3 linked regions of the Homo sapiens genome follow. The protein of the gene in region 3 purifies or fractionates together with the protein of the main gene of each other region. This does not show direct contact. Each region holds a gene or a part of one and is shown on either strand. Other genes may lie near its edges.

Region 1 (4,994 bases), on a different chromosome or scaffold from region 3:
GCATACTCCCAGATTGTCTGTGAATGTCTCTGAATCCTAGTTCAAATTTTTTAAGAGAGAAAGTCATTGCTCAAGCGGGGGTAGATGTCCCCTGCCCTGCCTCCAGTCAAGTATGGCTACTATAAACTTGACTGTCAGGCCCCAATCTCTGTGTGTGGTTGAGGTGGCAGAGAGTGGGAGAGGGAGACACATTCTGAGAAGATGGGAAGGTTGTGAGCTAGGCAGACACCACAAAAGGTGTTTTATGCAGGATAATGGTAGAAGTAGGGGTTATCACTAAAATCTAGGCACTAGGTGTTGAGGGCCTGAGCTAAGGTTAGTTAGGTGCAGTGTAGACAGAAAGAAGAAAGTGGATTTAAGAGATACTTAAAAAATAAGTAAACATAATTTGATACCTCATCAAATATAGGAGGCTTGTGAGAAGGAGGAAGTCTACATTTCATATTTAAATTACTGGGAATCTGGAGAAGAAATATTGAGGAGGATTGAGTTTTATGGCAAAGATACTGAGTTTGGTTTGGACACGCTGTATTTGTGGTCCTATGGAATATTAAGTATTGCTGTTCAGTAGACACCTGAATGTAAGATTTGGAGTTCAGGAGTGAGATTTCCACTGAGATTTGGAACTCATCTGGGTAGAGTTAGCAGCTGAAGCTGTGAATCTGGATAAATTCACATAGAAGACTATAGAGTGAAGAATGGAATCCAAGGACTCTCAGTATATATAGGAATAGAAGAAGTGCTTATCAAGTAGCCAGTCTGTGACATTAGACAAGGAAGGAATATGGACTTTAACGTTATGGAGAATGTGAACATAGGATATGCTAAAGCCCTGAAAGATAAAATAGGGTCCATGGCTTACTAGTTAATAGCAATATGTACTGGGTACTGTGCTGTTTTACTTATTTCTCGCAGCTACTAAACTCTTTATTATTCCTACTTTAAGGATCAGACAACTTAGGCACAGAGAGGTAACTTGCCCATAGTTTTACAGCTGGGTGGTAGAACCAGGATTCTGCACTTAGGAAGCAGGCACAGTGGTTCACGCCTTTGGTCCCAGCACTTTGGGAGGCCGAGGCAGGTGGATCACTTGAGGTCAGGTGTTTGAGACCAGCCTGGGCAACATGGTGAAACCCTGTCTCTACTAAAAATACAAAAATTAGCCGGTGTGGTAATACATGCCTGTAGTCCCAGCTACTCAGGAGGCTGAGGCAGGAGAATTGCTTGAACCCGGGAGGCAGAGGTTGCAGTGAGCTGAGATCGCGCCACCGTACTCCAGTCTGGGGGACAGTGCGAGACTCAAAAAAAGGGTCTGCACCTAGGCTGGGCCTGGTGGTTCACGTCTATAATTCCAATCCTTTGGGAGGCTGAGGCGGGCAGATTGCATGAGCCCAGGAGTTCGAGAGCAGTCTGGGCAACATGGCAAAAACCCTGTCTCTACCAAAAACAGAAATTAGCCAGGCATGGTGGTGTGTGTCTGTAGTCCCAGCTGCTCAGGGGGCCGAGGAGGGAGGATGACTTGAGCCCGGGAGGTGGAGGTTGCAGCGAACTGTGATCGTGCCACCATACTCCACCCTGGGCCACAGAGTGAGACCCTGTCTATTTAAAAAAAAAAAAAAAAAAAGAGTCTGCACTTATCCACTGTGCTTAGTGCCTCAAAGGAAATTGAGGGAGATTCTGACTTAGCTAGTTAGTGTAGAATATGTTACTAAGGCGATTATGGTAATGGAGGGCAAACTTTTTAAAATTTTATTTTTAATTGTGGTAAAATACACAGAAAACATAAAATTCACTATCTTAATCATTTTTAAGTGTATAGTTCAGTAGTGTTATGTGTATTTGTATTGTCGTGCAGCCAATCTCCATAACTTTTTTATCTCATAAAATTGAAACTATACTCATTAAATAGCTACTCCCCATTTCCTCTTCCCCCAGCTTCTGGCAACCACCATTCTACTTTGTATCTCTACGAATTTGGCTGCTCTAAGAACCTCATATAGGTGGAATCATATAGTTACTGTCTTTTTGTGACTGGCTTATTTTACTTAGCATAATATCCCGAAGGTTTATTCATGTTACAGAACATTGTTAGACTTTCCTTTCTTTTTATGGAGGGCAAACTTTTATTTATTAGAACAAATTTTTATAGCCTTTACATATTGAAGAGGATATTATTATCTTACTGGTTTTGAAAAAAATAATTATTTCAGGGATGGTGACATATTTAGACTCCTTATAACCTCTATAATGTAAATTATATACATTAGCATAATTATCTGAATGTCCGGGATAAACATTTTTAACAAGAGAATATTTAATAAGAACTTAAAAAGCATTAAAAACAAACAATACCTTTTCAGTTCTTAACTCATTTGTTTAAGAAGGACAGCTGTGGTGTATTTTTGCCCTGTAGTGATTTTGTGATCCATGGGATTCACAGATTTAAAATACAGTTTTTGTAATATTTACAGGAATGCCTAAGGTCATTCACATATTTTTTATGAAGTTTTGTTATGGAGGCTGGTGCGTTTGGTACTGTTTGGAAGCATCTTATCTAACTGGTGAAGGAATCTAACGATGCCCTGCATTTATACCTCTGTTTAGGGATGTGGTCAGAGTCTTCTTACAGTTTTGAATATGACAGTGGAGTCCAGATTAGCTCCCCAGTTCACTACTTTTGAACTTTAGGAAGTTAGTTAAGTTTTCTAAGTTTGAATTTTGCTACTTGTAGAATGAGAATATTAGTAGCTCCTACCCCATAGCATTCTTCTGAGGATTAAATGTGGTAATGTGAATAAAGTGCTTAGCATGGTGACTGGCACATAGGAAGTGTTCAATGAATGTTATATGTGACTGTTATTACTGTCATGATGTTTGGTATACATGCGTTTGAAGAGTCCCAAATGGTCTACTGTAGCTGGAAATCCATTCCATCCCTTGTTTTAATAATAATTATTTGCTTTAGCTGAATTGAATTTAGGAAATATTAATCTGTACTGGATGCTTCAGAGGATTCAAAGTTGAGTAGAATACAATTTCTGCCTTCAAGAAACTTATACTTAAGTGTTTAAAATGGAAAAATTTTATCTATAGTGATTTTGGAATCTGCATCTTCTAAAATGTTAAGTTTTGAACTAAAAGTATAGGAATAAATCCAGGTGAGAGTATGGTTTAAACATTTTACAACCATCTTAAAATTTCTATAAAATAGTCTTTGACTTGTGCATTTTGTTTGTTTATTCCAGCCAGCACCTAACCAAGTCACTTTTCATCTGCCACTACATCGTTACTATGCTATGTTTTTGAGTAAGGTAAGACTGTCATTAAACAATTCTGTTCTTTTTTTTTTAATTTTCAGAAATAAGAATTGAATTAGTAACTTTTTTATTGTAATTTTTAGGCTGTGAAATGTCAAGAACTAGATTTGGATTCTGTTTTACCAGATCAGGAAATGTTAATGAAACTAATGATTCACCCACTCCAAATTCAAGTATGTATTCAGGCATTTAAAAAGTTTTGAAGTGGATTCCTTGTTTAAGTGATTCTTCCTTTATTTATATGCCTTTCATTGTTATTATAGCTGAGATGTTTGAAAACTTTTTTTAAAAAGTTGTTATTGTATTTTTGCTAGATTATGTTTAGGTATTTTTCATTTTATGAGATTTACTTTTTAGTTTTACTTTTTCCAGGAATTCTTTTCATGATATTTGCTTATGGGGTGGTATTTAACATACTATATAGCACTGTTTTGGGAGTCAGGAGATCCAAAAGATTCTAGCCTTGGTGCTACCACTGTTTTATTTTCCGCAAGGTTTAAGGTAATTCACCTCCTTGATTCTCAGTTTCCCTATCTGTATAGTGAGAGGAGAAAGAGGAGAGAAGAATTAGCTTATATAAGCACTGTGATTTCTTTTAATACCAGCAATGTAATTTGACAGGCCAGCTTTTTATATACATTAGAGGGACTTGCACTTCCATTTGTTTTTCCTGGCAATTTTAGATTTGTTAATTATTATAATATTGAACTTGAACTCTGGGTGTTAGGAAACATAAAATTATGACTGCTTGAAGCCAGGTGTGGTGGCTCACGCCTGTAATTCCAGCACTTTGGGAGGCCAAGGCGGGCAGATCACGAGGTCAAGAAATCGAGACCATCCTGGCCAACATGGTGAAACCTTGTCTCTACTGAATATACAAAAATTAGCTGGGCATGGTGGCGTGCACCTGTAGTCCCAGCTACTCGGGAGGCTGAGGCAAGAAGAATTGCTTGAACCTGGGAGACAGAGGTTGCAGTGGGCCAAGATCGCGCCACTGCACTCCAGTCTGGCGACAGAGTGAGATTCTGTTTCAAAAAAAACAAAAAAAATGATGACTGCCTAGTTTTAGTTGACACTGGACATAAATACATGAAGAATTAAATACTGATGTAGTGAGAACATTTATTCTAACCTCCAATATTTGGAAAATTAGCAGTATAGATTTAAGATTGAGTTAGGGTGAATTAAAGATGTAGAATGTATTCATTGACTTTGAACAGTTGGTTTTATTTTATGCTTATTCTAGTGTCTTTCTTTAAACATGTATATTAGGATTGTTGTTGTTGTTACTTAGGGTTTTCTTGAGGGAGAAATAGAGTGAAACATAAGCATTGATTTCTTATGAAAGATGTCAGTGAAAATCATCATAAATGTATCCAGAGGCCAACATGGAAAACCAACTCATTTGTTTAAACTCTAAAAAAGTGGCTATGTAAAAACATAATTATTGTTAAAAAAAATGTAAAAATGTATATTTCAACTGATTATCTTTAACATTGGACAGAATATCGGGCTTATACTATGATCACATCATTAAATATTTTGAAATGGTTATTTATAATATTTTGTAAAGATTGCATTTAGATAATTTATTCTTTGTCCAATTTACTTTTATTAGGCAAGTCTTGCAGAAATCCACAGCAATATGTGGGTAAGAAATGGTCTGCAAATCAAAGG
Region 2 (4,994 bases), about 210 Mb from region 3:
TTCATTGTTATCTTACTTCAAGAAATTGCCACAGCCACCCCAACCAGCAATCACCATTCTGATCGGTCAGTAGCCAGCTACATCAAGGCAAGACCCTCCATCGGCAAAAAGATTGACTCGCTGAAGGCTCAGATAACCATTAGCATTTTTTAGCAATGATTTTTTTTTGAGACGGAGTTTTGCTTTTGTCACCCAGGCTGGAGTGCAGTGGCACGATCTTGGCTCACTACAACCTCTGCCTCCCTGGTTCAAGCAATTCTCCTGCCTCAGCCTCCCGAGTAGCTGGGATTACAGGTGCCTGCCACCACGCCCAGCTAATTTTTTTTGTATTTTTTAGTAGAGACGGGGTTTCTTCATGTTGGTCAGACTGGTCTCGAACTCCCAACCTCAGGTGATCCATCCGCCTCAGCCTCCCAAAGTGCTGGGATTACAGGCATGAGCCACCACACCCAGCCTAGCAATGAAGTATTTTTAAATTAAGGTACATGCAATATTTTCAGACATAATGCTATTATTGCACACTTAAAACACTACAGTATACTACTGTAAATATAACTTTTACATGCACTGGGAAACGAAAAATTTCACGTGACTCATTTTATTCCAATATTCATTTTATCACTGTGGTCTGGAACCTAACTCGCAATGGTCTGGAACCATACCCTTCAGGGTATGCCTATAATTATTTTAGAACCCTCCATCTCAATAATCCCATTCCTGGAAAATATATCTGGACATGGAGGGCAACAGTCAAGTTAACCAGTAAGAAAGGTTTTGGTCAGTAGAAACAAAACATGTCAATTTTCAGGATAATGAAACTGGAAAAGCCTAAAAGAAACAAATAATGCTTTGAATCTATGCCAATATTACAGTATGATGCAAAGCTGCATATCTGCAATTTAGGTAACTATCATTACAGTACATCCAGGACCTAGAGATCTGGAACACCTCAAAGAAGTAAGTAAATAAAAACTCTGAATCCTAGGGACACAGTCGGAAAAGTCAATGTCCTTGGATTATAGCTTTAGAAAGTTACCTTTAAAATGAACTGAAATCAAATCTCATTGCAGTCCTGTGCCACACTCCTGCTAAGACATTCTTACTGGGTTCAGTTGGAATGTGTCTTTCCCCACCCCTTCTCCTCTTTAAACTTCTCTCTCAGTTTGAGACCTACAGTCCACAAATAACCAGTCTTTCCTGACCTATCAGACACATCCCAAATCTGTTTCTACCACATATTCTACAGCTTAGACAAATCCCCACCTTTCTTAGTATGGCTGATTGGCCTAGCTGGAAGCCAATTCTTATATCTGTGTAGCATTAATTATAAGAAACATAGAAGAGAGTCCTAGTCATTCCAAATTAATGCTGCGAGAAAGATCTCTACTGACAAATAACACAAGCTTCAAAGAAGTGACAATATTTTCATACGTATTTTCCTTGATACTCACTTGGGAGGGCATAAGACTTCTTCAAGAAATTCCTCAATCTTATTTACATCCGTTTTGACTTCACTGTTGAAAGTTATAAATGGTGGGTGGGTCCCGGGAGCCAAGTTCTGCAGGTCTGCTGGCTTCCTGTTGGGCAAAATATTGGTCAAAATCAGATCATTTTTTACTCTTAAACAACAATAATACTTTAAATTCTCAAAGTTGGCCAGGCACGGTGGCTTGCGTCTGTAGTCGTAGCACTACAGGAGGCTGAGGTGGGACACTGCTTAGCCCAGGAGTTTGAGACCCAGCCTGGGCAACATGGTAAGATCCTGTCTCCACAAAACATAAAAAATTAGCCAGGCATGGTGGTGCGTGTCTATAGTACCAGCTACCAGGGAGGCTGAGGTGGAAGGATCACTTGAGCCTGGGAAGTTGAGGCTGGAGTGAGCCATGATCGCACCACTGCACTCCAGCCTGGGCGACAGAGAGACCCTGTCTCAAAAAGAAAATAAATAAATTGTCCGGGCATGGTGGCTCATGTCTGTAATCCCAGCCCTTTGGGAGGCCGAGGCGGGTGGATCACCTGAGGTCAGGAGTTTGAGACCAGCTTGGCCAGCATGGTGAAACCCCATCTCTGCTAAAAATATAAAAATTAGCTGGGCATGGTGGTGCGCACCTGTAGTTCCAGCTACTTGGGAGGCTGAGGAAGGAGGATCACTTGAACCCGGGAGGCGGAGGTTGCAGTGAGCTGAGAATGTACCACTGCACTCCAGCCTAGGTGACAGAGTAAAACCCTGTCAGAAAAGAAAAAGAAAAAGAGAAAAAGAAAAAGAAAAGAGATCAAAGTGGTTCTAAAATTTAAAGTATATAAAACTGAATAAGAAATGGTATTTTTCAGCCGGGCACGGTGGCTCACGGCTGTAATCCCAGCACTTTGGGAGGCCAAGGCAGGAGGATCACGAGGTCAGAAGTTTGAGACCAGCCTGACCAACATGGTGAAACCCCATCTCTACTAAAAATACAAAAGTTAATTGGGCGTGGTGGCATGTGCCTGTAATCCCAGCTACTCAGGAGGCTGAGGCAGGAGAATCGCTTGAATCCCGGAAGCAGAGGCTGCAGTCAGCAGAGATCTCACCACAGCACTCCAGCCTGGGCGACAGAGCAAGACTCCATCTTAAAAAAAAAAAAAAAGAAAGAAAGAAAGAAAGAAAGGTATTTTTCAACCAGGTGTGGTGGCTCACGCCTCTAATCCCAGCATTTTGGGAGGCCAAGGTGGGCAGATCATGAGGTCAAGAGATTGAGACCCTCCTGGCCAACATGGTGAAACTCCGTCTCTGCTAAAAATATAAAAATTAGCTGGGCATGGTGGCATGCACCTGTAGTTCCAGCTACTTGGGAGGCTGAGGAAGGAGAACCACTTGAACCCGGGAGGCGGAGGTTACAGTGAGCCAAGATCGCACCACTGCACTCCAGCCTGGTGACAGAGCAATACTCTGTCTCAAAAAAAAGAAAGAAATAGTACTTTTCCACTAGATATAATAGCTGTAATAGTATTCTAATAAGAAGCAAGCCTCCACAAAATACATAATTTATGGTAAGAAAATGCTTTGATTTTTTTTTTAACCAAAATACAAAATCCATCATTCTCATTCCAAATTAACTAAGTCACTCATTAGAGATAGTGATAGAATGAGGAGGGAAAAAAGATTTTGGAGAGTTAGTGTCTGGTTTCAACTCTGGCCCCAACTAATTGTGTAAAGATGGGTAAGTCATGACTTCCCTAGGCCTTTTTTTTTCTTTTTGGCAAAATAAAAGAGAAAAGCAGCTGAATCCTGCAGTCATCTTCAACTTCAAAAGATTCCAAATTCTGGTGCTATTTCTTTCCCATTATTCTAGAAGTCCAGGCTTGACAAGGAAAAGGATCACCAGATTAGACTATCTAATATCAAAATTACTTCAATACATAAAAGATGGCATAATGAAGGGTAAAAAGCAACAAAGAATGGACAAAGTACTGAGTGAGAAAAGCTTAAAATCTACATTACCTAAGGATTTTGTCCAAATTCATTCCAAAGGTCATCAAAAAAATCAAATAGGTATGGGTCAAAAGAAATTGATGAGAGACAGATAAAACAAGTGAACACACAGAAAAATGTAAAATAGCACAACTATAAAGGGAATTTAAAAGTAAACAATAAGATGTCTTCCTCCTGTTGATTAGGAAAAATTGAAAACACCACAAAACACTGATAAAGATGGTGAAACTGTTATGCTGACAACTACTAACAGCAAGAAGTGTTTGTACTATCTTGTTAAAAAAGCAAAATGGCTCACCCAAACCCACCAATGAATTTTAGGATCAAAAAATGAGATGACCAGATATGGTGTGTTTCCTATGGCACCATGAAGTATTCTTACCAAAGAAGTTGACCCTGAATCTAATCAAGCCTCTGGGGCAGGCTGGGTGCAGTGGCTCATACCTGTAACATTAGCACTTTGAGAGGCCAAGGCAGGAGGATTGCTTGAGTCCAGGAGTTCAAGCGAGACCAGCCTGGGCAACATAGTGAGATCCCATCTCTATAAAAAAATTTTTTTTAATTAGCTGGGTGTGGTGGCATGTGCCTGTAGTCCCAGCTACTTGGGAGGCTGAGATGGGAGGATTGGTTGAGCCCAGGCGGTCGAGGCTGCAGTGAACAGTGATCATATCACTGCACTTCAGCCTGGGCAACAGAGTGAGACCCTGTCTCAAAACAACAACAACAACAAACCAAAACAAAGCAGCCTCTGGGGCAGCTGTTTCTCAAATTGTAAGCCAGGAGACCCTTTCACCAGGTGATCCATTAGGTCAGAACTATTCTTATAATACTAAGGCATCATTTGCCTTTTTCACTCTCATTCTCCTCTCGTGCACATATAGTAAAATTTTCCAAATTTACTTGGCTACTTGGTACAAGATATCACAAGGTAATGAATGCAGAAGCAGACACGAGAAACCTCTTCTAAGATGTGCAAAAATGTAAAAGAATGCCACTCTTCTCACTATTTTTTGTTTTGGGAAATATAGTTGTTTTACATTAAAAATGTTTTATGGTAATAAGTAGTGGGTTCATTATTGTTCTATATTTAATGAATTAGTAAATGATTTTTTTTTTTTTTCCTGAGACAGAGTCTCACTCTGTCGCCCAGGCTGAAGTGCAGTGGTGCGATCTCGGCTCACTACAAGCTCCATCTCCCAAGTTCACGCCATTCTCCTGCCTCAGCCTCCCAAGTAGCTGGGACTACAGGCGCACACCAAGCCCAGCTAATTTTTGATGTATTTTTTAGTAGAGACAGGGTTTCACCATGTTAGTCAGGATGGTCTCCTGACCTCATGATCCGCCCACCTCGGCCTCCCAAAGTGCTGGGATTACAGGTGTGAGCCACCGTACCCGGCCATAAATAAACATTTTTAAAATTTCTCAGGATTTTTTTTTTTTGAGACCAGTCACCAAAGCAGGAGTGCAGTGTCACAATCATGGTTCCCTGCAGCCTTGATTTCCTAGGCTCAAGCAATTCTCCTAC
Region 3 (4,994 bases):
TTTTTTTTTTTTTTAATTTTTTTAATTTTTAGTAGAGAAGGGGTCTCACTTGTTGCCCAGGCTGGTCTCAAACTGGGCTCAAGCGATTTTCTATCCTTAGCCTCCCAAAGTGCTAGGATTATAGGCGTGAGCCACCACATCTGGCGTATTAATTTATTTTAGAAAGAGGCAGGGAAATATGAGGGAGTAGAAATGGTGAGGGAAGAGAGAAGTCTTCAGAATTGATTTTAGAAATGATTGAGATTACAAATTGCTTGTTCTGCAGAGCTTGGAAGACAACATTCTACTCCAAAGAGGAGGTTTAGGTTGCCATGTAATGATTTTGTTGGTCAAAACAGCTCAGCAGTGTCATTTTTAGAGATCACTGTGGTTAGCAGCATCCAGATCAAGGAAAGCATTTTGTGGGTGCTCAGATGTGGGGCATAGGCTGTGATGGGTGCCAGGCCCTGCCCTGCCCTCTGGGTGTTTGTGATCTGAGGCTGGGTTCTGACCCTGGCTGCGATGTGGCCTTTTGTTGCAGTGTGCACCTTTCCTCGTTATCCTCCCAATGAGGGTCGTCACCTGCCAGGAAGGTGCTAGAACCACACTGGAGGAGACAGGAGGGTGCCCTGTTTACCAGGCAGAGAGCCCTTACTCATCGGTAATACTCAGATATCTTGAGCTGCATGTAGCATAGTGCATGAGGGAGTGTATCAGTGTGTTCTTGTGTTGTTTTAAAGAAATACCTGAGACTGGGTAATTTATAAAGAGAGGAGGTTTAATTGGCTCACGGTTCTGCGGGCTGCACAGGAAACATGGCATCGGCATCTGCTTGGCTTCTGGGGAGGCCTCAGGGGGCTGTGGCTCATGGTGGAAGGCGGAGGAGAGCAGGTATCTCACATGGCAGAGCAGGAGCAAGAGGGAGAGAGTCAGGGGGAGGTGCCACACCCTTTTAAACGACCAGATCTCATGAGGACTCACTATCATGAAGACAGCACCAAGCCATGAAGTCACCATCATGAAGACAACATCCGCCCCTGTGATCCAGACACCTCCCACGAGGCCTCACCTCCAGCACTGGGGATTACAGTTCGACATGAGATTTGGGAGGGGACCACCACCCACACTCTGTCACCCGGCCTTGGCATTTAAGCTTCTGATGCATTTCAGGTGTGCGATGGGAGTCCTGACCATACCCACCACTCAGGACAGACAGTTCCAGCACATGGGCAACAACTCGTGTGTGGCTGGTGTGCGTCCTTATGCTGAGGAGGGGTGCGTGAGCTGGCACACTTGTGACGGTCGATTCTCAGGATCTCTTTCTTTTTTCTGTCCTTTCTCATGTCCCACCCTAGAGTCAGATGGAGTTCAGTATCTCCGCCCTATCCATCCAGGAGCCGAGCAACGGCACCGCCGCCAGCGAGCCCAGACCACTGTCCAAAGCTTCCCAGGGCTCCCAGGCCCTCAAGTCCTCCCAAGGCAGCAGGTCCTCCAGCCTGGACGCCCTGGGCCCCACCAGGAAGGAGGAGGAAGCGTCATTCTGGAAGATCAATGCTGAGCGGTCCCGAGGGGAGGGGCCTGAGGCCGAGTTCCAGTCGCTGACCCCTAGCCAGATCAAGTCCATGGAGAAGGGGGAAAAGGTCTTGCCTCCCTGCTACCGGCAGGAACCTGCCCCGAAGGACAGGGAGGCCAAGGTGGAAAGGCCCAGCACCCTCCGTCAGGAGCAGCGTCCTCTTCCCAACGTGAGCACCGAACGTGAGAGACCCCAGCCTGTCCAGGCCTTCAGCAGTGCACTGCACGAGGCTGCCCCCTCCCAGCTCGAGGGGAAGCTGCCATCTCCTGATGTCAGGCAGGACGATGGGGAAGACACCCTGTTCTCGGAACCCAAGTTTGCACAGGTGAGTGGCCTTTACCAGCGCGTCCTCAGATGGGATGGTGCCTTATTCCACGGGAACCGAGAGGGTCCCCCACAAAGCAGGCAGGCCACAGGTGCCCATGCTCTTTTTCTTCTCCTTCCCCTGCCTCTTCCTCAGAGGATGCCTAGGCTCAGGGTGCTGAGCCACCAACAAATATGCAACAAGACAAGTTTTGCGAGTCCATCTGGGTGCCCTAATTTGTTTACCAGTCAGGGTTCCGTGGCCCACTGCGCTTTCCCCAGTGCGCGGGCTGCTATCAGAAGAGGCCCCTGGAAGGCGCTGCGCCCAGGGCTGTCACAGCTCAAAGCTGTGTTGGGCCTTCTTTTTGGGAGCTGTCCATAGAGGCAATGGTCTGTTCTTTAGGACTGGTCTGGATTTGGGCCAGGGGAGCTGCCTGTTGGCAAAGCAGGCAGGCACACTTGAGAGGCCTCACTGGGTCTTGCCCCTCTGTGGGCCTCGCTGGGCTCCTGGCTGCCTTGCTGAGGAGTGAGCCCAGGATGCAGTTGCCTCCATGGTAGCCTCACCCATCCTCCTCTGGCCCTTGAGACTCCTTGGTTCTTGTGGGTCACTCTTTTTTTTTTTAATTTTTATTTTTTAAATTTTTTATTTCCATAGGTTTTGGGTGGTATTTGGTGACATAAGTTCTTTAGTGGTGATGTGTGAGATTTTGGTGCACCCATCACCCGAGCAGTGGACACTGAACCCAATTTGTAGTTTTTTATCCCTCACCCACCTCCCACTCTTTCCCCGAGTCCCCAAAGTCCATTGTGTCATTCTTATGCCTTTGCATCCTCATAGCTTAGCTCCCACTTATGAGTGAGAACATATGATGTTTGATTTTCCATTCCTGAGTTACTTCACTTAGAATAATAGTCTCCAATTACATCCAGGTCGCTGCAGATGCCATTAATTCATTCCTTTTTTGGCTGAGTAGTATTCCATCGTATATATATACCACAGTTTCTTTATCCACTCATTGATTGGTGGGCATTTGGGCTGGTTCCATATACTGAATTTTAAAAGTTTTTATTATGGTAAAATATACAAACATTTACCATTTTAACCATTTTACAGTATAAATTTGGTGGCATTTCAGTACATTCTCAATGCTGTGTAACCATCACTACCATCCATCTCCAGAACTCCTTTCATCCTGCAGAACTAAAGCTCTGGACCCGTTCAACACTAACTTCTCATTCATCCCTCCCCGCAAGCTCCTGGCAACCACCATTCCACTTTCTGTGTCTGTGAATTTGACTCCTCTAGGTACCTCATATAAGTAGCACCATATAGTATTTACCCTTTTGTGACTGACTTACTTTACTTAATGTGACGTCTTCAAGGCTCATTCATGTTGTAGCAAGTGTAGAATTGCCTTCTAAGGCTAATATTCCATCGTGTGGTTAGACCACATTTTGTGTATCCACTCATCCATCGACAGACACTTGGGTTGCTTCCACCTTCTGGCTATTGTTGTCTGTTAGGAATAGTGCTGCTGTGAACGTGTATGTACAAATAAGTCTTCCAGCCCCTGCTTTCCCTTCTCCTGGGTGCATACCCAGATGTAGAATTGCTGGATCACATGGTGGTTCTATTTCTACTTTTTTGAAGAACCTGCATACTGTTCGCCACAGCAGCTGCGTCATTTTACATTCCCATCAATGTGGGTTCGCGTTTCTCCACTCCCTTGCAACACTTGTTATTTTCTGTGTCTTTGCTGGTGCCATGCGAAGGGGTATGAGGTGGTGTCTCACCGTGGTTTAGACTTGCCTGTCCATGATCGTGAATGATGTTGAGCCTCATTTCATGTGCTTATTGGCCATCTGTGTATCTTCTTTGGAGAAATGTCCAATGGTCCCTTGCCCATTTTTAAATTTTTGGTTATTTTGTTGTTGAGTTGAGATCATCACTGATAACATTGAATGTCCCCCAGAGCAGGTTTCCAGTACTTCCACACCTCCCTCGGCAGATGGCTGCACGTGCTGTCCTCCCGAGGAGGGAGGATCCAGCGGTGCTAGTACCTTCTGCCCACCTCGGCTCCACATCAGTGCTCTAGCCTGTCCTCTTCGTGTTTCTGCACCTTCTTAAGCTAGTGCTTTCAGCCCTCTTGTTTCCTGCCTTCTCCGGTACCTGCCCATCTCTCCGTTCTGTTTTCTGTCTCACATCCTCCTGCCCATCAGCTCCTCCTTACAGACAGGCTCAGTTCCCTGCCTCCCTAACCAGCACTCTTTCTCTGAGACTCGGCACTGAGGGCTTCCTCTGAAAGAAGTATTTCCATAAAATAGGTGATAGTCCCCACTCTAAAGAGAAGCAGGAACGTGTTTCTGTGTGGGCAGTGGAGAGTAGGAGACAGCACATGAAATTCCTTTGAGAGAACAGATTTCTGAGTAAAGCACAGTGAAATGCCACTGCATTTAAGAAACTGGAAGGAAACCAGAACAAGGAAAACTGGATTGCACTCCTTCCATTCTGCATGTTTTGCCTCACTCTGCACCAGTCTCACATGTAGCCAAACTGGGCCTGAGACAGGTGTCAAGGGCAAGCCCATTAGCCCATTGCCTGCTCTTGCCGCCATGTATGCATTTTCTGCTGGCCGGCTGCTTGGAGGGTGGAGAGTCAAGGTTTCTTTGCTCAAGAAGACCTTGGCGCACCAGGTAAATGCCTGCCGGTGTTAGGCTGGAGGAAAGGGACATCAGAAACAGGCTGCTGAGTGGAAGCCAGTCAGAAGTTTTATGAAAACAGCAGCAGCTTGAGACAGCCCATGCTCACAAGAGGGGACCTGTCAGTTAAGCCCTTTCCCCTGAAAGAAGAATGACATTAAACCAGGCCTTGTGGTGCACGCCTGGTGCATGCCTGTAGTCCCAGCTACGTGGGAGGCCGAGGCAAGAGGATCGCTTGAGCCCCGGAGGCTGAGCTTAGAGTTTGGGAAAATCACTTCATAACCTTTCACAAGATCTGAAAGAAATAAGCTTCACATTCTTTCCACACTATGTTTACTTTCTCAACTTTACAAGTTCTTTTTTGTTGTGTTTGTGTGTGATGTTTGTTTTATATTTGAAGGAATATCTTTATCATTTGTTCTCTTATTTAGGATGAATA

Evidence for each region. Proteins that work in one complex are often made in the same cells at the same time.
Region 1: the proteins of C1orf198 (region 3) and UBR3 purify together in Homo sapiens (affinity purification with mass spectrometry; one large-scale study listed by BioGRID and IntAct). This does not show direct contact.
Region 2: the proteins of C1orf198 (region 3) and CLIC4 fractionate together in Homo sapiens (co-fractionation; one large-scale study listed by BioGRID). This does not show direct contact.

What each region holds. Positions count from the first base shown.
Region 1 is NC_000002.12:169,920,684-169,925,677, forward strand, and holds part of UBR3 (E3 ubiquitin-protein ligase UBR3), read left to right. Parts: intron 1-3,245; coding exon 3,246-3,311; intron 3,312-3,400; coding exon 3,401-3,490; intron 3,491-4,935; coding exon 4,936-4,994. UniProt on the Homo sapiens protein: E3 ubiquitin-protein ligase which is a component of the N-end rule pathway. Does not bind to proteins bearing specific N-terminal residues that are destabilizing according to the N-end rule, leading to their ubiquitination and subsequent degradation.
Region 2 is NC_000001.11:24,810,677-24,815,670, reverse strand, and holds part of CLIC4 (chloride intracellular channel protein 4), read right to left. Parts: intron 1,578-4,994; coding exon 1,452-1,577; intron 1-1,451. UniProt on the Homo sapiens protein: In the soluble state, catalyzes glutaredoxin-like thiol disulfide exchange reactions with reduced glutathione as electron donor. Can insert into membranes and form voltage-dependent multi-ion conductive channels.
Region 3 is NC_000001.11:230,840,237-230,845,230, reverse strand, and holds part of C1orf198 (uncharacterized protein C1orf198), read left to right. Parts: intron 1-1,334; coding exon 1,335-1,877; intron 1,878-4,994.